5 separate regions of the Homo sapiens genome follow, and regions 1, 2, 3 and 5 are each reported to be linked to region 4. Evidence: microRNA targets listed by miRTarBase, many of them from high-throughput screens and not tested one by one. Region 4 holds a microRNA gene; each other region holds the end of a gene's coding sequence.
Evidence for each region. The annotated mature microRNA hsa-miR-4262 reads GACAUUCAGACUACCUG and lies in region 4 at 1,864-1,880, opposite strand. An mRNA with a match to its seed (bases 2 to 7 or 8) in the 3' UTR can be bound and repressed. Matches are read on the target gene's strand: a 7mer-m8 pairs with bases 2 to 8, a 7mer-A1 pairs with bases 2 to 7 and ends in A, and an 8mer does both.

Region 1 (4,000 bases), not on the chromosome of region 4:
CAGAGAAGATGGGCGTCCTGGGATCTGAAGGGTCCGAGGTCAAGTTTCAGTCCTGTCCCAGCCTCTGCCAGGGAGCCTGTGCTGGACCAGGATTCCTTTACATTTGGATTTGGAGACCCTCCTGAGAAGCGGACCCTCACCTAGTTCGTTGAAATTCTCATCTCCCCAAAAGTCCGTTTCTCTGGGGGAGAGGAGCAGATGGGGACACCCCGGGAGCAAGCACCTGGCTCTGCCCTGGCACGCCCCGTGACTGACAGATGCAAATGTCCCGCCGGGCCCCCGCAGGCCGCTCCCTCCCTTGCTGGCTCGCCCGCCTCCCGGCCAGCTCCCTCCCTCCTTTATCTTATCAAAGCCCGGTAATTACAATTGCTATTTTGTTTCCTCGAATCTGCAATCAGAGCTCCCTGGCCCAGATGAGGGAGCGCCTGTCAACCTGATCGCTGAGTGACAGCCCGGCCACCTTTCCTGGCCGCCCCCACACTCCGCAAACACAAACACACACACGCACAGACACAAACTCCCTCGCCTGCAAACACAAACACACACTCCTCGCCAACACAAACGGCCCATCTCCGCAGACACGCCCTCGCCTGCACCCAGACACACTACTTCAGCCTATTTCCAAACGCACCCCTCGATCCCAGCCCATCCCCCGGCCCCTCCAATCCACACCCGCCGGAGACCGCAGCTCGCTCCGACGCGCGCTTCCTGCGCCGGGCGTTCAAAGCGCCGCGGACTCACTGCCGACCGTTCAAATGCAAATCGCCGAGACTACGTTAAGCACTTCGGCCACTGTCTGGGAGTCGTCTCCCTCGGCCCCCAAATAGAAGCCTGCCCTTCCTCCAGCAGTCGGCAAACCCCGGCGTATGCCTTCATCCCCCAGGGGTCTGAGGCCACAGTGAGCCGGCAGCGCTCCTACTGTGCGCTGAAGGGCAAAGAAGAGGGCTCGAGGAGAGGCTGGGGCGAGGAGAGAGGAATAAACCTTGCCCAGCTGTGTCCGCGGGGCGCCCCAACCGGCCGAGAAACTCTTGGGCCGAGAGGCTGATGTGGATTGGGCCCCCACTGCGGGCAGGAGCGTGCTCGGCGCAGGCCCGCGCCCACCGGGAGACCTACCCGGAAAACCGGCGAGAAATGCAAGGAGCGATCAGTGGCATCGCGGGGGGTGGGTGGGGTAAATATTGGGGCGGAGCCGCGCAGGGGGTAGATGGGTCAGCTAGGGAGGCCTCCCAGGAGAGAGGACTCAGCCAGTCTCCCGCTCCTCCTGCCAAGCACGTGCCGAGGACTTTGGAGGCTGGGGCCAAGAAGAGGAAGGGAAAGAGGAGTGAGGGCCACAGCCAGACTTCCCCACTCCAACTCAAGTCGTTCGAATGAATGAATGAACGTATGCACGCATGCATGCAAGCCTCAGTGGCATTCCCCCGCCTTCCGCCCAAGATTCGGCCGCCCAGAGCAGTGGCGGGACTCGGAGGCCCCGGCCCCACGGCGCCCGCCCGGAGCCTCTAGAGGCCAGGGAAGCGGTACGACCACGAGCGGCTTCAACCTCGCCCGCCAGAGGGCGCCAGCCCCGACTTCCCTCTCCCTGCCGACCGCGCTCCGCAGCGAGACCCATGGTTCCCAGCCAGGCCGCCCCTCCGCCGGGCTCCCCAGGGAAGCATTTTTAGCAGCGCCCTCCTGGATCGGAGAAAGGCGCCTGCGACCCAGATCACCGCAACACAGACGGGCGTCATCTCCCTTTGTCCTCAACTTGAGGAAGAGGGAGGTTGGAAACTGGACCCCTAGTTCCTCACCACGGGCTGGGGGAGAACCTCCTTCACTAGGGATGCGCTGAAGAGCGTGCGGGTCGGTACTGCGGACGCAAGGTCTTCAAAGCTGACCTCACCTGCCCCAGAACCACCAGCCCGCGATATCCCGGGGCCCCTCCCCCTTGACTAGAGGCTGGGAGTGGGAGTTGGCCTGACCCCCATCAGGCCCTGTTCTCTGTCTATCCTCAGCCTGTCTGGCCCCAGGTTGTCTGGGGAGGCAATGTTTTGTTTGTTTGTTTGTTTGTGGGCATTGACAACCCTCCCCCCACAACCAACACAGCTGCTGAACTGCTGACCCCAGAGCTGGTCACATACACTCATCCTCAAACCAGGTGTGTCAGTTCTTCCTGGCACAAAGGCAGCCAAGTGCCAGAACTACCTGATTCCAGGCACCAAAGACCCCCAGACCCCACGGTGTGTGGGGGACAAGAATCCCTTAGTCCAGGAGGCAAATTCCCTGGGGCCCCTTTCTGCCCCCATATGCCAGGCCACCCGGATTCTGGTTTCCCTGTCACCCAATCTGGCCAGTCCCCTCCATCTGGCCCCCGGAGTCAGGTTTCTCTAAGGGCCCAGCCCTGCTCAGAGACAGCCTGCAAGGCTCAAAGGAGGAGCGAAGCCTGGTCCCGCCCTGCCCTCACAGGCCCTCTCTGGGCCAGAGACCCTCGTGGGGCTAGGGACGCGCATTCCTCAGGCTGCCTAAGCTCGCTTATCTGCCCCCCTGCCCATCAGCCGAGTGCTGACAGAGGCCCAGACCCCTTGTTTGGATGCTGATAACCTCCTGCGATGACCCTCTCCCACCTGCAGAGACTGGGAATGGGCTGAGTGTTGGGAGGTCCCCTTCCAGCAAGGCAACTGGGGCCCAGGCCCCAGGTCCTAGCCCAGGGCCATGAGGGTAGAGGATCCCACAGTTCTCCACCCTCCCCCAGGCCCAGGGCCACGCTGGGTGCTTCCACAGTGCCACCTGGCGGTCCCTAGGGAAACATCACCCAGCACAGGAAGAAGCCACACAAGAGCTGCAAAAACTCCACACCACTTTATTTCAACCTTTATCCAAAAATGTAAAAACTATTAAAAATGTGTAGCTCTGAGCTTCAGGCACTAACCTCCAATTCTCACAGGCAGGTGGGAAGGGAGGCCCCGGGCATGGTGAAAATCAGAAAACCACGGCTGTGTGGAGCACAGGCCCTCTCCTAGCACCAAAGACCCAAGTCCCTCCCACCCAACCCCCACCCAAGCTCTCCTCTTCAAGGAAGAAATATTTACAATTGTTGAAACTTGTCAGGGAACAGGGTGCATGGCGGTGCATGGCACATGGAGCTGACCTGAAAAGAGGAAACAAGGAATCAGCATTTAGGCCCTCACCTGCTTCTCCTGCCCCTTCCCAGAGCCTGCTAGGCACTTCTCCCCGCAACTCACCTAGGAGGGCTAGGGCCTGCCCCCCTGCTTTTTGGCAGGAAGGATGGGGCACAGCTCAACTTCTTCCTCATCACTGTCCTCTTCCTCTTCCTCGCTCTCCTCCTCAGAAACATCATTGCTCATCGTAACTGGTGGACACACAAGCAGTAGAAGGATGGGGTGTTAAGACCAGACCGTTTCACACCGCATGCCATTTCTTCACGCCGTGGTGTTAGGCTTACAGGGACCATGACCTCCCAGTGCTTATGGGCTAGGTGGGAAGAACCTCAGACCCTAAACTGGGTCACAAAGAGCCAAAGGAGTCTTCATTATTGGAGCTGGAGAAGTTGGGCCATGTTCCATGGAGGAGGTAGGCTTGAGTAGACGGAAAGGAGAGGGCATGTCATGCACAGGGCACAGCGTGGAGGGCACACAGACCTGTACAGGGCTGCACTGGGAGATGAGGGTGGGATGGGGCAGGAGTGCGGAGTGGGGGAAGCCTGATGGGAGAGTCCACTGGAAGCAAAGGAGAGGGCCCTCCCCTCTTCTCACCAATCTGGTGCCGCCCAGTGATCCGCACAGGGCCAGAGCCCGACTTCAGGCGGAAGGTTACAGGTGGTTGGAGCTGGAAGTCATCCAGACTGAGCTGGGAGGAAGACAAGGATGAAGGCCTGGCCCACTCCTAGCCCACCCCACACTGTAATGAGTGCTAACGTCCTCAATCCCCTCACCACCACCACCACCACCACCAAGGCAGAGCTGGGGAACTCACCATGGGTTGGCAGGACAGCTTGAGGTTGGCC
Region 2 (4,000 bases), not on the chromosome of region 4:
TGTAGTTTAAAATATAGGCTTATGGGGGAAAAAATAGCAATTTTCAAAATTATATTTACTCTGAATGTAACTGTATAAAAATATGTGTATGGACAAAGACTGGAAAGAAAAAAATAGATGTGGTTAAGTAGTAGAATTCTAGTAGATATTTTTCTCTTAAGTCTGCCTTCTAGATGGGAAATTACATTATGAGTAATTAGCCAAAAACAGGTTTAAGTTCTCAAGGAGTTAAAGTTTTTGTTTCAGCAGGCTAATAAAAATACTGTCTGGTGCTGTATATTGACACAGTTCTTCTGCTAACTTTTGTCTGTGTATTTTTCAGTCAATAAGCAGATAAATGACAAAGAGCGAGTGGCAGCTGCAATGGAAAACCCCAACTTACGGGAAATTGTGGAACAGTGTGTCCTTGAACCTGACTGATAGCTGTTTTAAGAGCCACTGGCCTGTAATTGTTTGATATATTTGTTTAAACTCTTTGTATAATGTCAGAGACTCATGTTTAATACATAGGTGATTTGTACCTCAGAGTATTTTTTAAAGGATTCTTTCCAAGCGAGATTTAATTATAAGGTAGTACCTAATTTGTTCAATGTATAACATTCTCAGGATTTGTAACACTTAAATGATCAGACAGAATAATATTTTCTAGTTATTATGTGCAAGATGAGTTGCTATTTTTCTGATGCTCATTCTGATACAACTATTTTTCGTGTCAAATATCTACTGTGCCCAAATGTACTCAATTTAAATCATTACTCTGTAAAATAAATAAGCAGATGATTCTTATAATGACTCACTGTTTTTATTGAATTGTAAATTCCAGTGTAAATGTCAACTCCTAAAGGATATCTTCAAAGCTTTATTTTTGCTGATTATTTTGTAGAATCAGAGATCTGAGAACCAAAAGGAACCCTTAAGATTGGGCCTTCCTTCCTTCCAAGGAGAGTCCTGGACCCTTTCATAGATAAGGAACAAATGTGGAGAAGGCTAGATGGCATACACAATTTTGAAGATCAAGAAGTCCACCAAAGAAGTTTTGATTAAACCAACCTAAATGTATGGTCCGCACTTTATCTGTCCTTCATTTGGTTTGTTTTAGGGGTTAATGGTCATGTGAAGTATAGTAGCCTCCAACATGGCCCCCAAGATCCTCACTTCCTGGTATTCATGCCCTTGTATAGTTAACTTCCATATTGAATTGGAGCTGATGGGTGTGGCTAATAAAGAATGGCAGAGTGACAATGGGTGACTTCTGAGGCTAGATCATAAAAGGTATTGCTGTTTTCACCTTAGGCTCTTGGATTGCTTATTCTGTAGGAATCCAGCTGCTATGTCACGAGAACTCAAGCCACCCTGTGGAGAATTCCACACGGAGTGCAGCTGAGGCCTCCCAACAACAACCAGCAGCAATTTGCAAACCATGTGAGTGAACTCCTGATGCAGAACTGCCTAGCTCCCAAAGTCTGGACCCAGGCACTGTCTTGGGTGCCAAGGACACAAAGATACATCAGCCATTGTCTGTCCTCCTGGAGTTCATACTTATTAGCCTGGACCTTCAGCTTCTCTCTGCTCCAGGCAGTGAGTGATTCGGACTCAGTTTTATCTACTGCCTGAGCTCGTCCTGGCCAAGTAGAAACAGAAGCCGGGCAGCAGGTCCAAAGACAAAACCATGCCTTAGGGACTGTCTGGTGAGGACACTACTGACATGCAACTCCAAGTGGATCATTGCTACAGGAGTCACCTGAACTGCTGGCCCTGCTGCTCCTGGAAGCTAGATGTGACTTCTGTTGTCTCCGCTACTGCCAGAGTGATTTCTCATTTTTGTGTGACTCACTCCAGCTTCCTAGTCCTAGCTGAGATCTCTAGTCGGCTGATCTCAAGTCACATGTCCATGTCCTGGCTGCCAAGAAGGCGGGAGAAAAGAAAATCTGACCTTTGGTGTGGGGAGGTGGACTCTGTCCCCCCAGCAAGACTCACATGGTGGGAATTCTATAGTAGAGTGAGAGGGGTCAAAAAACTAACATCTACTGCATTAATTATATTAGAACATGAATTTAAACTTTATTAATCATAATGGTATCTACATAGAAGTGAAAAATAGAGGTACATATATAGTCAGAAGTAGTGTTATCTGGTCCATGTTTGGCAAGGGTTAGGAAACGTTTTTGGAAAAGGGCCACATAGGCAATATTTTAGGCTTTTCAAGCCATATGCTCTGTTGTAACTATTCAACTCTGCCCTTGTAGCACAAAAGCAGCTGATAGTCTGTAAACAAATAAGCATGATTGCACTCCAAGAAAACTTTATGGACACAAATTTGAATTTCATATAATTTTCATGTGTCATGAATTAATATTTTCCTTTTTAATTTTTTCAACCGTTTAAAAATATAAAAACCATCTTAGCTTGTGGGTTGTACAAAATTCCAGCATTGGGCTGGATTTGGCCTGTGTGCCATTAGCAAACTCCTGATTTACAAGAATGATTATCCTTTCTGAAAAGTCAGACCAATTGGAAAATCAGATAAAAGATGTGGAATGGGCCCTCTCCCTAGGGAGAAAAAGGCACTCACATGAAACTGCATGTGACTCCAGGACATTCACAGACTTGCTAAGGAGCCAGTGGACCCCGGGTTAATAACTCTGCTTTACAAGTAATGCTAGCTGAGCACTGGGCTCCCCCCTCCTTTAATAACCCCCCAGAGCCCTGAGGGTTCACAACTTTGGGAGTATAGGGGCAGAAGGTGTGATACCTTTCCTCACCCATCATAAAGGTCATGGCCAACACCCCCGTGACAAAAGACAGGGTAACAAGAGAAAAGCATAACAAATGTGGTCAATCCAAGTTTTATGTGACACAGCAGGCTTCAGATAGGAAGAATCCAAAGACCCAGGGAAAACTGTCTTATTTTTCTGCTTAGGTTTGACGAAGAGTGGACAATTGTGTAGAAATGTGATTGGACAAAAAGTGCGATCTAATGGTAATGGACTAAGTGGGGAAACCCAGCAAGGACTATCTCTTCAGATTCTTCTTGGCCTTTCTGTGTAGCATTCCTTCCTCCTGGGTATGGGGCAGTCTTATGACCTACTGTTAGATAAGGCAGGTCAGAGAATTTCTTTATGGCCAGCTCATGCACAGAAAGGCGGGGGAAAGTTAGAGTAATATTTCTAGGTTTTGTGGTTTGCTTTTTGTTGTTGTTACTGTTTTTGTTTTTGAGATGGTCTTGCTCTGTTGCCCAGGCTGGAGTGCAGTGGCACAATCATGGCTCACTGCAGCCTCAACCTCTCAGGCTCAAGTGATCCTCCCACCCCAACTTCCCAAGTAGCTGGGACCACAGGTGCATACCACCATGCCCAGCTAAATTTTTTTTTGTATTTTTTTGTAGAGATGGGACTTTGCCATGTTTCCCAGACTGGTATGGCTTGCTTTGAAAAGAGGTTCTGGTTTCTATTTCCTCCCTTGGGGAAGACAGATTCTGTTTTCTATGACTCCCTTTGGAGGAGGAAGGGGCAGGAGACAGCAGGGCAGGATATGGTCAGAGAGAGTCTTTGCTTTTGAGGCTGCTTCTGAGGCTTTCTATTCTTCTTTAATTCACAGCACACCAAGGAGCCATATTTTGGGTTATTGCTTTCTGAGCCCCAGTAGGAGCCACTACCTTCTTGTTTTTGCTTTTGAGACAGGGTCGCTCTCTGTCGCCCCTGCTGGAGTGAAAAGGCACCATCAGGGCTCACTGCAGCCTCAAACTACTGGGCTCAAGCAATTGTCCCACCTCAGCCTCCCAAGAAGCTGGGACTACAGATGAGAGCTACCACGCTCAACTAATTATTTATCCACTGCTTTCTTAGACCGTTACAAATAAGAAGCTTATGGCCGGGCGTGGTGGCTTAGGTTGGGTGCAGCGGCTCACGCCTGTAATCCAAGCACTCTGGGAGCCGAGGCGGGTGGATCACGAGGTCAGGAGTTCAAGACCAGCCTGGCCAAGATGGTGAAACCCCATCTC
Region 3 (4,000 bases), not on the chromosome of region 4:
AAAAAAATCAATGGAAATTTCCACCTTTGTTCGAACACATAAAGTATGCCATGAGCAATATAACATCACAAACGTACTGTGACAAACCATTAATAAAGAAGGATTACTAAGCCAGGTGTGGTGGTGCATGCCTGTAGCCCAGCTATGCAGGAGGCTGAGGCAGGAGGATCACTTGAGCCCGGGAGTTTGAGTCCACCCTGGGTAACACACCAAGACTCCATCTCTAAAAAATTAAATTAAAGGATTACTGAAAGATCTCATTTCTAAAAAAAGAAAAAGAAAAAGATCACTGAAGTCAGACATGATATTTTAATTTTGTATTTTGAAAAGTCAGTATATAAATAAGAAAAAATTATTTTAGAAATTATGTGAAAATCCACTCTTGGGTGGAGTAAATGCAATGGTTTGCCAGCACTGGCTCTGAGCCAACTGTGCACATCCTTTCTGAACTCTAAGGTGGTAGCTTGAAATCAGCCACAGGAGGAGTAACTAATTTATATCAAAGAATTTGATATAAAATTCTAATTTATATTAGAATTTTATTTATAATTTATATTTGCAGCAAATGCTACAAATTCAGCGCTCCCCCCCACCCCCACCCCAGAGATCCTGGTTGTTAAACATTTCTAGCACACGACTGAGTGGATAGCGACCAGAGCAGAAGGAAAGCTAAGGTATCAGAGAAGATGTCTCAAAACCCCATTCAATCTGCTCCCCTTCCGTAACTTAGGCTACTGCTGCCCAACAGCATTCATCCTGGCAAAGTGACTAGGGATGGATACGAGCTACAGCTACCAATTACAAGTCTCTCCAGTGAAAACTGATCTGAAGTGGTACATCACCTTTCACACTAAGAATTCTGCATATATTCAACAGAATATGAAGCTGAGACTTTTCCAGGAAGGAGGTAGTCTATAAACAGAACTGTCTGCCTCATACACCTGCAGTAAGGTTGTAAACTTTGACTTAAAAAAGGATACGCACACACACACTTCTCCAAATTAGTTGATCTCAAAGAGATAGCAGATCACCAATCTGTGACAGCCTCACACCTCTGAGAGGCTATAGATTTATGCAAAAAGGACTCACTAAAATGGTTTACTAGGAAGTTGCTTCAACTGAGTTTCAATGGTGCCCTTGGTTCCAAGGTACCTCTGTGCTGAGACAGTTAATTATTAAAAATACTGTCTGTGAAAACAAATCAATGGCTTTTCTCCTTTAATTCAAAAAGATAAAATACCTTTGTGCTTTCAAAATTTAACACATCTAGTTAAATCAACCATCTATATCTACTTATTTAATGTACAAAATGTTAACCTAATTAAAACTATTTCAAAGTGCTGCTGAGAGGTCCAATTTCAAACAGGCATGCAAACTAAATAATTTAATATGGAAAAAAAAGTCCAATATGTCTGTTCCCCATCACTATTAAACAATACCTTTCAACACTACTATTGCACATCTCAGGAACAGAACCTTCAACTGATAACCACAAATGAACCAGTAACAAGTCTCCGACACTACAGATATAAAGGCAGCTCACTGAATATGTTCCCTCTACTACTACTAAGTTAGCTAGCATAGATGTCTTCTTATACAAGAGCTTCTCTACACTGTATATAAGCACATTTAAAGTAAATACCATGCATCTGAAGATGCTAGTTTGTAACAGTGTCAGTCTGAGCCTTCAAGTTCTTACTTCTTCATTTAGTTCATGTGATTCTACAGGATTAGAAGACGAGTTTAACCGGTGGGAGAGATTGGTGGGGGAGGGTGGTAGTGGTGGTGAATGGTGACAACATATAATTTAATCCTGGACTTTAATTTTCAAAAGACTCCACTGTGATACTGATATCAATTCAGTTTGGGGAACCAACAAATCTGTACCTGGCATTGATTACCATATAGTAATATTTTAAAAATTTGGTAATGTAGAGAATAAGGCCTACATTTTTTACTACTAATATGAACAATCCAATCCCTATGTATAAGCATTCCCAAATGAACTCTGCTCTTCCCCATTTAAAAAAAAAAAGTTGAAAGAAATAAGCACATCTGAGCCTGCGCCTTTGGGAGGCTGAGGTGGGCGGATCACAAGGTCAAGAGATCAAGACCATCCTGGCCAACATGGTGAAACCCCGTCTCTACTAAAAATACAAAAATTAGCCAGGCGTAGTGGCGCATGCCTGTAGTCCCAGCTACTCAGGAGGCTGAGGCAGGAGAATTGCTTGAACCCGGGAGGCGGAGCTTACAGTGAGCTGAGATCGCGCCACTGCACTCCAGCCTGGGTGATAGAGCAAGACTCTGTCTCAAAAAAAAAAAAAAAAAAAAAAAAAGGAAATAAGCACATCTTCGCTCCTGACTGGGGAGGCTTCACTTTGAATTCTACCTTCCTAACTGCATCTTTAAAACTATCATAACCTCTAACAACCTTAAACATAAAGGAAAGGTGATAAATGTATAGTAGAAAATGAGGTAAAATGAACAGGAAAAAGACAGGTCCTTCACTTGGTTATCTTCTAATTGAGAAAACCACTACATGTTGTTTCAAGTTATCTGATCGAATCTTTTACTCAGAGATGTTTCAAATATTCAAAATCCAAGTTCATCCTCCTAAAAGTGATCATTTCCCATGCTGTATTCCATGGGCATATAATCATACCACCCAGAGGGCAAAGAGCATTTCTGTGCTAGATGTGAGGTCCCATATTCTTACTAGGTGTTCCAAAAACTGTCTTAAACCCCAGGTCTAAAAATCTTTCTATAGTGAAATAGACTAGCTCCATGCTCTGTTGACAGGTTCAGACAGGATCATACATATGGCTAAGAGATCCACCCTGAATAAAGGTAAACAAGATGCCTTTTCATGGAGTTGCTTACACGTTATAGTTCACACAAAACAATCTCCCCAGTATGACTGCTCCAATCTTACTTTGTATGAATAGGAATGATTCTTCTTCTTCCACTGCTTAGGAACAGCTCACTTTAAGTCATTCAACAGAGCACACTTAGTCCTAAAGATGCCAATTCATTTCACAAATATTTCTTTAAATAATAGATTCTAAGCATAATTTTTCCTGGCCAAAGGGTCCCAATAGCCAGAAGGAGTAACTTTGTTCTTAATTGCTTTTGCAAAGCACAGTCACTAAAGCCCACCAAAAACTTCTTCAGCACAAAGCTCAAAATATTTTTAAAGGAGAAAAGAAAAGGAAGGAAGGAAAGAAAAAGAAAAGGAAAAGACAGAGGGAGGTGGAGTTTAGACTCCAATTAAGGCATTTTTATACATATAGTCCAACTTGAGTCCTATTCAAAGAGAATCCTAAAAAGATGTTTTCAATGGGGAATGGCAAAAATCACAATAGTCTATTATCAGCATTGTAGAACTATCAATTGCTCACTTCAAATGCAATCATGTTGAATGTCTGTTTCTTCGTTCCTCGGTTCTCTCATTCCACAAGTGCATAGGTTATGTCTTCTGTAGGTCTGGGGAAAATGGGCCAGGGGTGGAAGGTCCATCCAGCCCAGACAGAGTGAATGGCCCATGACTGTTCAGTACAGAAGGAAACTGAGAAAGAAAACAAAACACATTATCATCCTATTACTCAACCCCAACTTTTACTTTCTATCCTACTCTATTACCTGAGGCAAAACACAACAGCCTTCTGTAATGGCTCACAGGACAAAGGCAGTGGCTGTTTATCATGAAAGAATATGATGTCATAACAAAAACTAGAAACAAAAATCTTTTGTCCTAACATATTAAATATTAACATTCTCCAACTTACCTCAATGGAGTAGAAACAAAGAACAACCTGTACCCTCCTTCATATCCTAAGGTACACAGGTTTACAATTAACCTCAAATGAAGGTTTTAGAAAGTTCAAGTAAATGACAATATGCACTACAGAGTGTAATTCAATTATGGAGCAAATCATAAACCCTCAAAAAGAGATCCAGAAAGGTATAAATAGCACTCATCCTAGAAAAGGGTTCCCCATCA
Region 4 (4,426 bases):
GAACTTGGGGAGAAAACCAAGTTTTCTTTGGACGTGTAGGTTTGAAAGAATGATTAGACATCCAAGAAGACAAGTCAAGTGGGCAATGGATATGCCACTCTAATTTTCACGGGAGAACTCAGGACTGACAGTGGGCATTTGGGCATGATTAGTACACAGATGGTGATGAAAGCCACAGGGCAGGATGAGCCCAGGGAGAGACTGAAGGGAGTAGAGAAAATCCAAGGTCCAAGGACTGTCCAGGTGTCCCTCCTGAGAGGAGACCTTCCCTACCCTGAAAACACCCATCACTTTTACCCCCAGGTAGACTAGACCCTCCCTGTGTGGCACCCTCACAGGACACTGACATTCTATCACTGCACCTGCCCCGCTTCTGTGCATGATTTCTTCAATGTCTGTCTCCAACCAGACATAAGCTCCTAGATCCCCTAATGCTTGGCATTGCGTCATCCACATAGTAGGCACTGCAATGACATTTTCTTTCTTCCAATGCTTTATTGTCGAGTATAATTCTGAAGTACAAAACACCACTCAGACAGACATAATAGCGACTGTTGTATCAATGCCCATTCCAGGCACTCTTCAAATTGGCCACCAGATGGAATAAAAGGGATTGTCCTTGAAGAATCTGACTAGTGAGAAAACATTATAGAGTGGAGAAGAGAGCAGGCAAGAGCTGTGTCTGTTGTCCCTGCTGGTCAATTTCTCTTTCCCCTTTTCCACCTCTTTCCCCCCGCCTCTCTTTTTGCCCTTCCTTTCTTTCTTTCTCCCTTTATTTTGTTGGCTTTTTATAGTTTTCAGTCTACTGTTTTTTTTGAAACCAAAATAACATATTCACATAGTTTTAAAAGTTGAAGATTTTTACCAGAAGACACACAAAATCCACATGGCTGGTCCTACTTGCCCCCCTCCCCCACACCCCTCCTGATTCTCATTTTCAACCCTTGCCCCTGTTTATTCTGGAATTTACTTTGATATTTTTAAGTAAAATGAACATACTACAATATTTCGATTAATGAAATTTAGGCATTCCTTATTGACTTACGATGCCAGATGAAGTTTTTGTCTTTCATATGTGCTTTTTCCCATCCCTAAGCCTTATAGTATAAAAATATCATGTTTTTTTTTATTTCTATAACTTTTGGCCTTCCCTGGAGTTAATATGCTCCATTTTTTATGGCTCATTATTTTTTCAAATTATTACTAACTCCTTCCTCAGCCCCCAAAAAATGTTATGGGAAAAAAATCTCTGTAATATTTTCCACATTGTTAAATACATGTCTCCTTTTTTCCTCCTGGAAACCCTCCCACTAAAGTGCTCTCCCCGCACATTCCAGTCTAACAGGGCTGCTCTGACCCCCAACAAGCCATCAATCTGGAGTCTTCTCTGCTTTTCTCCTTAATTGGAGGCCCTGTCTCCAAGATCCCAAATGGATTGTTCTTAATTTTTTTTTGTGGTATCCATCTCTAATTTTGTGAGTCTACCCTTCAGTCTACCCTTCTGAAGACATTAGTTATAGTGTCTGTGAAATTTTCTTCTGTTTCCTGAATTATCTCAATAGTAACTCCTCAAATTTTGCTCGTTTGCTTTGGTTTCTATGGGCGACTTCCCTCAAGTGTCTGGTAATACTTTATATCTGTTTATATGTAAGAGAGATGCACTAAAACGTTGTGGGGTTGGGAGGTGCCTGTGCAGGATGGCAGGTGTCTGCGTCTATCTGTGGGTAGGTGTGGGTATATGAGTGTGGGTCTGTGTCTGTGGGGTGTATATGGGTGTGTGTGTGGGTGTCTGTGTTGTGAACATGGGGGGTGTGGGTGTCTCTTTGTGGGGTGTGCAGGTCCTGTCAGCCATGGGCTCTGCTGCAGGTAGTCTGAATGTCCCCCCAACATCAGCACCTGCAGCTTTCCTCTCTGGGGTGGTTTGGTATCTGCAGAGAGGCTGCCTGGCCTCATGGCGGGAGGTGGAGCTTGTGGTGAACGGCCTGTCACATGCCACAGTTGGACCAGGGAAGCAGCCGAGGAGCCCTACTGCTCACTGTGCAAGTGCCTCCAATGCCCACTTTTAGTCTAGCACCTTGTCCTGCCTCTTTTCCCCAACTCCAGGACAATGCACCTGTCATTAGCCACTCCAATGCCTATATCTCAAATTCCCACTGTCTACAGAATCATTCCCATCATCATACAGATCTGCTGTGATGTGTCCCATCAGCGTAAAACCAGCCCCAACTCATATTCCTCTCCATGACCACTCATTTCTCTGCTTCCCTTTATGGCCAAATTCTTGGAAGAGATGACTATATAGTCTGCCCTTCCAATCCATGGGTTTGATATCTGTGGATTCAACCAAGCATGGGTCAAAGATATTTGGGAAAAAATCTGTCTTTACTGAACACATCCAGACTTTTTTTCTTATCATGATTTCCTAACCCATAGAGTATAGCAACTATTAACATGGCATTTACATTGTATTAGGCATTATAAGCAATCTAGGGATTATTTAAAGTACACAGAAGATGTGCATAGGTTGCATAAAGATACTATGCCATTTTATATCAGGGGCTTGACATCCATGAATTTTGAGATCCACAAGGGTCCCGAAACCAATCCACCATGGACACCAGAAGCTGACTGTCCTTGCTTTTCCCCTTCCTCCCTTTCCTTCCCTCTTGCACCCACTCCAAGCTGACCTTTGGCTCCCACTCCACGGTACCCACTCAATGTCTTCAATGAACTCCAAGGGACAGAGCCAAGCAGTTTAGTCTCCATCTTACTTGGCCCAACAGTCAGGGAGGAATTTGGTTATGATTTGTCTCTTGCTCCTTCCTCAAAGTCTGGAAGACGTTTCCACCCAGGGAACAGGGAAAACAGGGCAATGGACGGGCAGCAGTGTGGCTGGAGGACTGGCTCTGAAGTGCAGCAGGGATGCTGTTAAGGGGTGAGCAGGGCCACATCATGAGCCAGGTGGCCTGGCCTCATTTCCCATGCACTTGGTGGCCACTAAAGGGAGGAGGAGTGGGGAATGGCAGAGTTGGGTGATGCTTTAGAGGGATCACCCAGGTGGTGGTGGTGACAGATGGGAGGGGCTGGGCAGGAGCAAGGAACCTTACCTGAAGACTCCAGGTGGCTCAGAATGGAGAAACTGAAGGTCCAAACTGAGGCAGTGACACAGGCATGAAGGAGGGGAGCCGAGGAGAGCCGGGGAGGAAGCTGGGATCACTTCCAAGTCTCTAGCACAGACACATGAGTGCATGGAGGGCCCATTACAGAGTCCAGCAGCCCAGAAACACAGAGCCGGCTGAGGCCTGCATGGAAGTCCAGAGGTCCACCTGAGGCAGGTTGAGTGGTTGACCCTGAGGAACAGCCAGCGAGTGGCCAGTGAGGCAACGTGTTCAGTCTGGACATGCCTCATTGTTCCAAACAAGGTGACAGGGGAGAGGCAGCTCCTGCTGGAGAAGCCGCTGGTGAAGGTCCACTCTGCAGAGTTTCAGAATGGTGCCAGCCCTTCCAGGCTGCTCCTTGTCCATTCCCTGCCCCGTCAGCCAGCCTTGGCTGCCCTTTCAAGGACACATGAAGCCACAGGAACAGGGAGGGCCAGTCTGCGTGGTGAGGTGACCCCTGACACATGCTGAGGTCTCCCCTGTGCTGGGAGGCTGGAGGGCATGCCTCGGCCTCTCTGGGGTCCCCAAAGCACAGCTCTAAGTGCCCATGTGCACCCAGCAGGCTTCTGATCTCTCCCCTCCCCACACCTGGCTGAGTGGGTACCTGGCTGTCTTCATACCTATAGACAGGTAGGTGCAGTGCCTCATTTGGCCTCAGACCCAGGTGTGATCTCCATACCAGCTCTTCTTGTATTTTTCCAGAGTGAATGGGGGTTGTTGACAACTTGTCCAGATGAGTGAAACTGACATTTGCTTCCTATGTGCCTGTGTATTCTTTAAACAATTTTTAAATATTTTTAATAAAGGAAAAATGAATATATTTATGGTGTAAAACGTGATGCTTTGATATTTATATACTTTGAGGACCGTGATAATGTATTATATTCTTTAAAACTGCTAAGGGAGTAGATTTTATTTATTTATTTATTTATCGAGATGCAGTCTTACTCTGTCACCCAGGCTGGAGCGCAGTGGCGTCATCTCAGTTCACGGCAACCTCTGCCTACCAGGTTCAAGCAATTCTCATGCCTCAGCCCACTGAGTAGCTGGGATTACAGATGTGTGCCACCACGTGTGGCTAATTTTTGTATTTGTTTTTGTAGAGACAGGGTTTCACTATGTTCACCAGGCTGGTCTGGAACTCCCAACTTCAGGTGATCCGCCTGCCTTGGCCTCCTAGAGTGCTGGGATTACAGGCGTGAGCCACCATGCCCAGCTGAGAGTAGATTTTAAATGTTCTCATCACAAAAAAAGGGTAAGTATATGAG
Region 5 (4,000 bases), not on the chromosome of region 4:
TGTAATGTTTCCTTTCAAAGATAAAATTGTATTGTTCTAAATATATTTTAAAGAAGAAATGATTATTGTTCAGTGTCTTTAAAATTAGTTTTCAAAATCTCATTTGTTTTGACATTTCAAACCAAGTTAAGTATTCTTTTTCTCACCCTCCTTGGGACGGAGTCTTCCTCTTTCACCCAGGCTGGAGTGCAGTGGTGCATTCTCGGCTCACTGCAACCTTTGCCTCCCAGGTTCAAGCGATTCTCTTGCCTCAGCCTCCTGACTATCTGGGATTACAGGCACCTGTCACCACGCCAGGCTAATTTTTTGTATTTTTCGTAGAGACCGGGTTTCATCATGTTGGACAGGCTGGTCTGGAACTCCTGACCTCGTGATCTACCCACCTCGGCCTCCCAAAGTGCCAGGAATACAGGCATGAACCACCACACCTGGCCATTAACCATTCTTAAAATATCACGTTGCATTCTTTCAAAGTTCTAATCTTTCATATACATAAATTACAACACAAATAGTTATACTCTAATAGTATTCACACTATAGTAAATTTTTTTTTCATGCTCTGTCGCCCAGGCTAGAGAGCAGTGGCGCGATCTCGTCTCATTGCAATCTTCTCCTCCCGGGTTCAAGTGATTGTCCTGCCTCAGCCTCCTGAATACCTAGGATTACAGGCGAATGCCACCACTCCCAGCAAATTTTGTGTATTTTTAGTAGAGACGGGGTTTCACCATGTTAGCAAGGCTGGTCTCAACATCCCGAGGCTGCCTCGGCCTCCCAAAGTGCTGGGATTAGAGGTGTGAGACACCATGCCCAGCCATAATAATAAATGTTATTTTATCTTTTTTTTGAGATGGAGTTTTGCTACTGTTGCCCAGGCTGGAGTGCAATGGCTCAGTCTGAGCTCACCGCAACCTCCACCTCCCAGGTTCAAACGATTCTCCCGCCTCAGCCTATCGAGTAGCTGCAATTACAGACGTGTGCCACCACGCCTGGCTATTTTTTGTATTTTAAGTAGAGAAGGGGTTTCTTCATGTTGCTCAGGCTGGTCTCAAACTCCCGACCTCAGGTGATCCACCTGCCTCAGCCTCCCAAAGTGCTGGAATTACAGGCATGAGCCACTGCACCTGGCTCATAATAGTACATTTTTAAAAACACCATAAAATATAATCCTTGCAACACTCAATTATACCATCTGGTCCGATCTATCAGCAGATGGCACCCGAGACATACGGATTGGAAATTTTGATCTTATTATGAATGAATCCAGTCCAGAAATGCCCACCCTGCCCCCTGCTGGCTCCTGGGGCTCTGCTCTTTGGGGGAATCATGATGAAATTGTGGCAGAGAGTAGAAGTTGAGCCCCATTGCATGCCCTGAGTTCTTGTTGCCTCTCTATTATCAGGAAAAGGAGGTGAGATTGAAAGATGAAAAATGCTGGGACTTCTGCTGAGAAGAGAAAAAAGAACAAGATGTATTGATCTTACTGTATGCCAGACCCCATGCCAAGCCCTAAACATGAACCATCTCATTGGATCCTACCAAGGTCCCATAAGCTGTTGGATATCATCATCCTCATTTTACAGGAAGCTGAGGCTCTAGGCTAACATCCCTGACAGCAACACCAGCCCCTGAGTACACAGCAGGATCCTTCACTTGGGTGCCCACTATGCAGGCTTCCTCACCACAGGGAAGGTCACTCATCACCCACAGGCACTTGATCGTTATCCACCCTTTGATGATGTCAGATTCCAGAACATGCTGCACTAGTCACTTCCTTCATAGGGAGAGAGGGAAGGTGTTATGAGAAAATCTCTCATCAATCTGACCTAGCTCCCCAAAAAGATGTAACTTTTAAAATGTCAGATGGAAATATTTAAAAAGTGTTACATGCCTGTATAGTTTTAGTATTTTACTTAAAGGGAATGTGGCTGTCTTTACTGGCTACAACAAGTTTAATTCAAGAAGGGCTGCTGGTCATCAGGGGAACAAGCAAGGGTTGGTGCTGCCCAGAGTCTCCAGCTAATACACAATATGGACATCCCCTTCCAGGGCAGCGGGAAGAGACTGGCTCCTTGTGCAGTGAAGCTGACATCCACCAACTAAGGCTTCTGGAAGCATGTGGAGACTCACAGGGAGTGGGCAGGGTCTCAGCATCTGGATAGCGGTGAAAGACGCTGAGAAGAAGGTGCTTTCCGTGTGGATTGGCTCACTGTTCTTGCCCAGCAATGTTCCAGGCCTTTGGTGTCCACCTAGTGTGTATTAACCCACTGAACAGCCACAGAAACTAACAAGGAGTTAACAGACATCTAAAGAAGTGAAGAACTGGAGGAGGCCAAGCCAAGCGTGGTGGTCCACGCCTATACTCCCTGCATTTTGGGAGGCCAAGGCAGGAGAATCACAAGCTCAGGAGTTCCAGATCAGCCTGGGGAAGACAGCGAGGCCTTGTTTCTACTAAAAAAAAGTATCCAGGTGTGGTGGCTCACACAGCTGTAGTCCTAGCTACTCAGGAGGCTGAGGTGGGAAGATCGCTTGAACCCAGGAAATTGAGGCTGCAATGAGGTATGATTGTGCCACTGCACTGTAGCCTGAGTGACAGGAGACCTTTAAAAAACAAAAACAAAAACAAAAACAAAAGCCTGACACAGTGGCTCACACCTGTAACCCCAGCACTTTGGTAGGCCTACTTGCGTGAATCACCCAAAGTCAGGAGTTTGAGACCAGCCTGGCCAACATAGTGAGGAAACCCTGTCTCTACTAAACATACACAAATTAGCTGGGCATGGTGGTGCATGCTTGTAATCCCAGCTACTTGGGAGGCTGAGGCAGGAGAATCATTTAAACCCCAGGTGGAGGTTGCAGTCAGCTGAGATGGCACCATTGCACTCTAAACTCCAGCCTGGGCGACAAGAGTGAAACTCTGTCTCAAATAAAAGAATGGGAGGAAACTGGTTACAATAACCAAATTTCATTTAAATGCCTTGATTTTCTTGGGCTGCATCTTATTGATTGGACAACTCAGTCAGTGCCTTTTGTTTTTTCCATCAATAACTGAAGATTCCTGAGGCTTAAACTGGAAAACAGGTTACTTAATAATAGAGGGCACCAGACAGATTCTGCTCAGTTTTCCTTTATTTCTGATTGTTTCTTTACAACCATCCATGCAAGAGTAACTCCCTCATGTATTCTCAAGCCTGAATTCCACTCTAGACATTCAGATTCCCATTTTCGACTCTACAGGATACAGGTTCCCAAAGTCCCATTGAATCCATGGCAACATTTCCCCCAAGTCCTGCCCCTGCTTGATCAGCTTTCCTTTCCCACTTTCAGAGCCCATGTGTGAAACGATGGGTTCTGTGCTCCCTTTAGGATGTACCTAAGACCTAGGTTTTAGTTTCCAAGTGTCCAGAAGAAAGCGTTTGACATACCCATCCAAATAGGCAGGCATTCAACAGCAGTATTGATCTGCCTCCAGGTCATAAAATGACCTGTCGCCATGGTCAGGGCAGTTGTCAGTACAGAACAAGATCCTCTTGGGGTGCCTTAAGTGCCTCACTTTCTTCATCAGCTCAGCCCTAATTTGAGCAAATCTGCTCCAGCAGAGAGTACCATCAGCACCATAACTTTCCTGCGGGGCAGGATACAGCTCCAGGCATAAGTTTTTGAGTATGATTGTGTGGCTCAGCAGGTTCTCCAGGGTGGCCATGCAGATGGGATTTCCACAGAAGCTGAAGGTGTTGAGCTCAAAGCAGCGGCTCAGGGCAGGCAGGATGGCGTTGACTTGGGAGTCTATGATGCCACAGTCATCTAAATCCAGGTACTCAAGGGTGGCTGCAACTTTTTCTAGGAGAATTTGGAGAGGCACAAGACTGTAATTGGTCAGTCTGATGCCACTCAGGTCCAGGGTCTTTAGTTGACTGATACTCGGGCACTGGGATAGATGCTTCAAGTCTGATTCCAAAAGCACACAGTTAGTTATTGTGAGGACCTTTAACGAGGTCTTCAG

Region 1: the mRNA of NPM3 is a reported target of hsa-miR-4262. The part of its 3' UTR that is shown has no 7-base or 8-base seed match.
Region 2: miRTarBase lists CIAO2A as a target of hsa-miR-4262. The part of its 3' UTR that is shown has no 7-base or 8-base seed match.
Region 3: the mRNA of ELK4 is a reported target of hsa-miR-4262. The part of its 3' UTR that is shown has no 7-base or 8-base seed match.
Region 5: miRTarBase lists PRAMEF11 as a target of hsa-miR-4262. Seed matches in the 3' UTR shown: 7mer-m8 at 3,205-3,211.

The regions. Positions count from the first base shown.
Region 1 is chr10:101,778,509-101,782,508 of GRCh38, forward strand. It overlaps NPM3 (nucleophosmin/nucleoplasmin 3), which reads right to left. Exons shown (of 6, transcript NM_006993.3): 3 at 3,970-4,000; 4 at 3,750-3,843; 5 at 3,219-3,346; 6 at 2,817-3,124. The coding sequence ends at 3,228. It also overlaps a transcript of FGF8 not described here. Among named protein-coding and RNA genes, the nearest start is that of NPM3, 2.9 kb to the right of the region's middle. RefSeq lists a promoter at 1-2,798, enhancers at 272-1,169, 1,170-2,067, 1,708-1,837, 1,915-2,765, 2,644-2,938 and 1 more and a silencer at 1,408-1,487.
Region 2 is chr15:64,069,351-64,073,350 of GRCh38, reverse strand. CIAO2A (cytosolic iron-sulfur assembly component 2A) reads left to right here. Exons shown (of 5, transcript NM_032231.7): 5 at 323-786. The coding sequence ends at 420. Among named protein-coding and RNA genes, the nearest start is that of CIAO2A, 22 kb to the left of the region's middle.
Region 3 is chr1:205,613,080-205,617,079 of GRCh38, forward strand. It overlaps ELK4 (ETS transcription factor ELK4), which reads right to left. Exons shown (of 5, transcript NM_001973.4): 5 at 1-3,565. The coding sequence ends at 3,467. Among named protein-coding and RNA genes, the nearest start is that of ELK4, 17 kb to the right of the region's middle.
Region 4 is chr2:11,835,080-11,839,505 of GRCh38, forward strand. MIR4262 (microRNA 4262) reads right to left here and starts at 1,907; the gene lies at 1,854-1,907. All of the region lies in intron 3 of LOC105373430 (a long non-coding RNA gene), which reads left to right.
Region 5 is chr1:12,821,500-12,825,499 of GRCh38, forward strand. It overlaps PRAMEF11 (PRAME family member 11), which reads right to left. Exons shown (of 4, transcript NM_001146344.3): 4 at 3,106-4,000. The coding sequence ends at 3,443. It overlaps LINC01784 (long intergenic non-protein coding RNA 1784), which reads right to left and starts at 1,724. Exons shown (of 2, transcript NR_146629.1): 1 at 1,537-1,724; 2 at 1,187-1,440.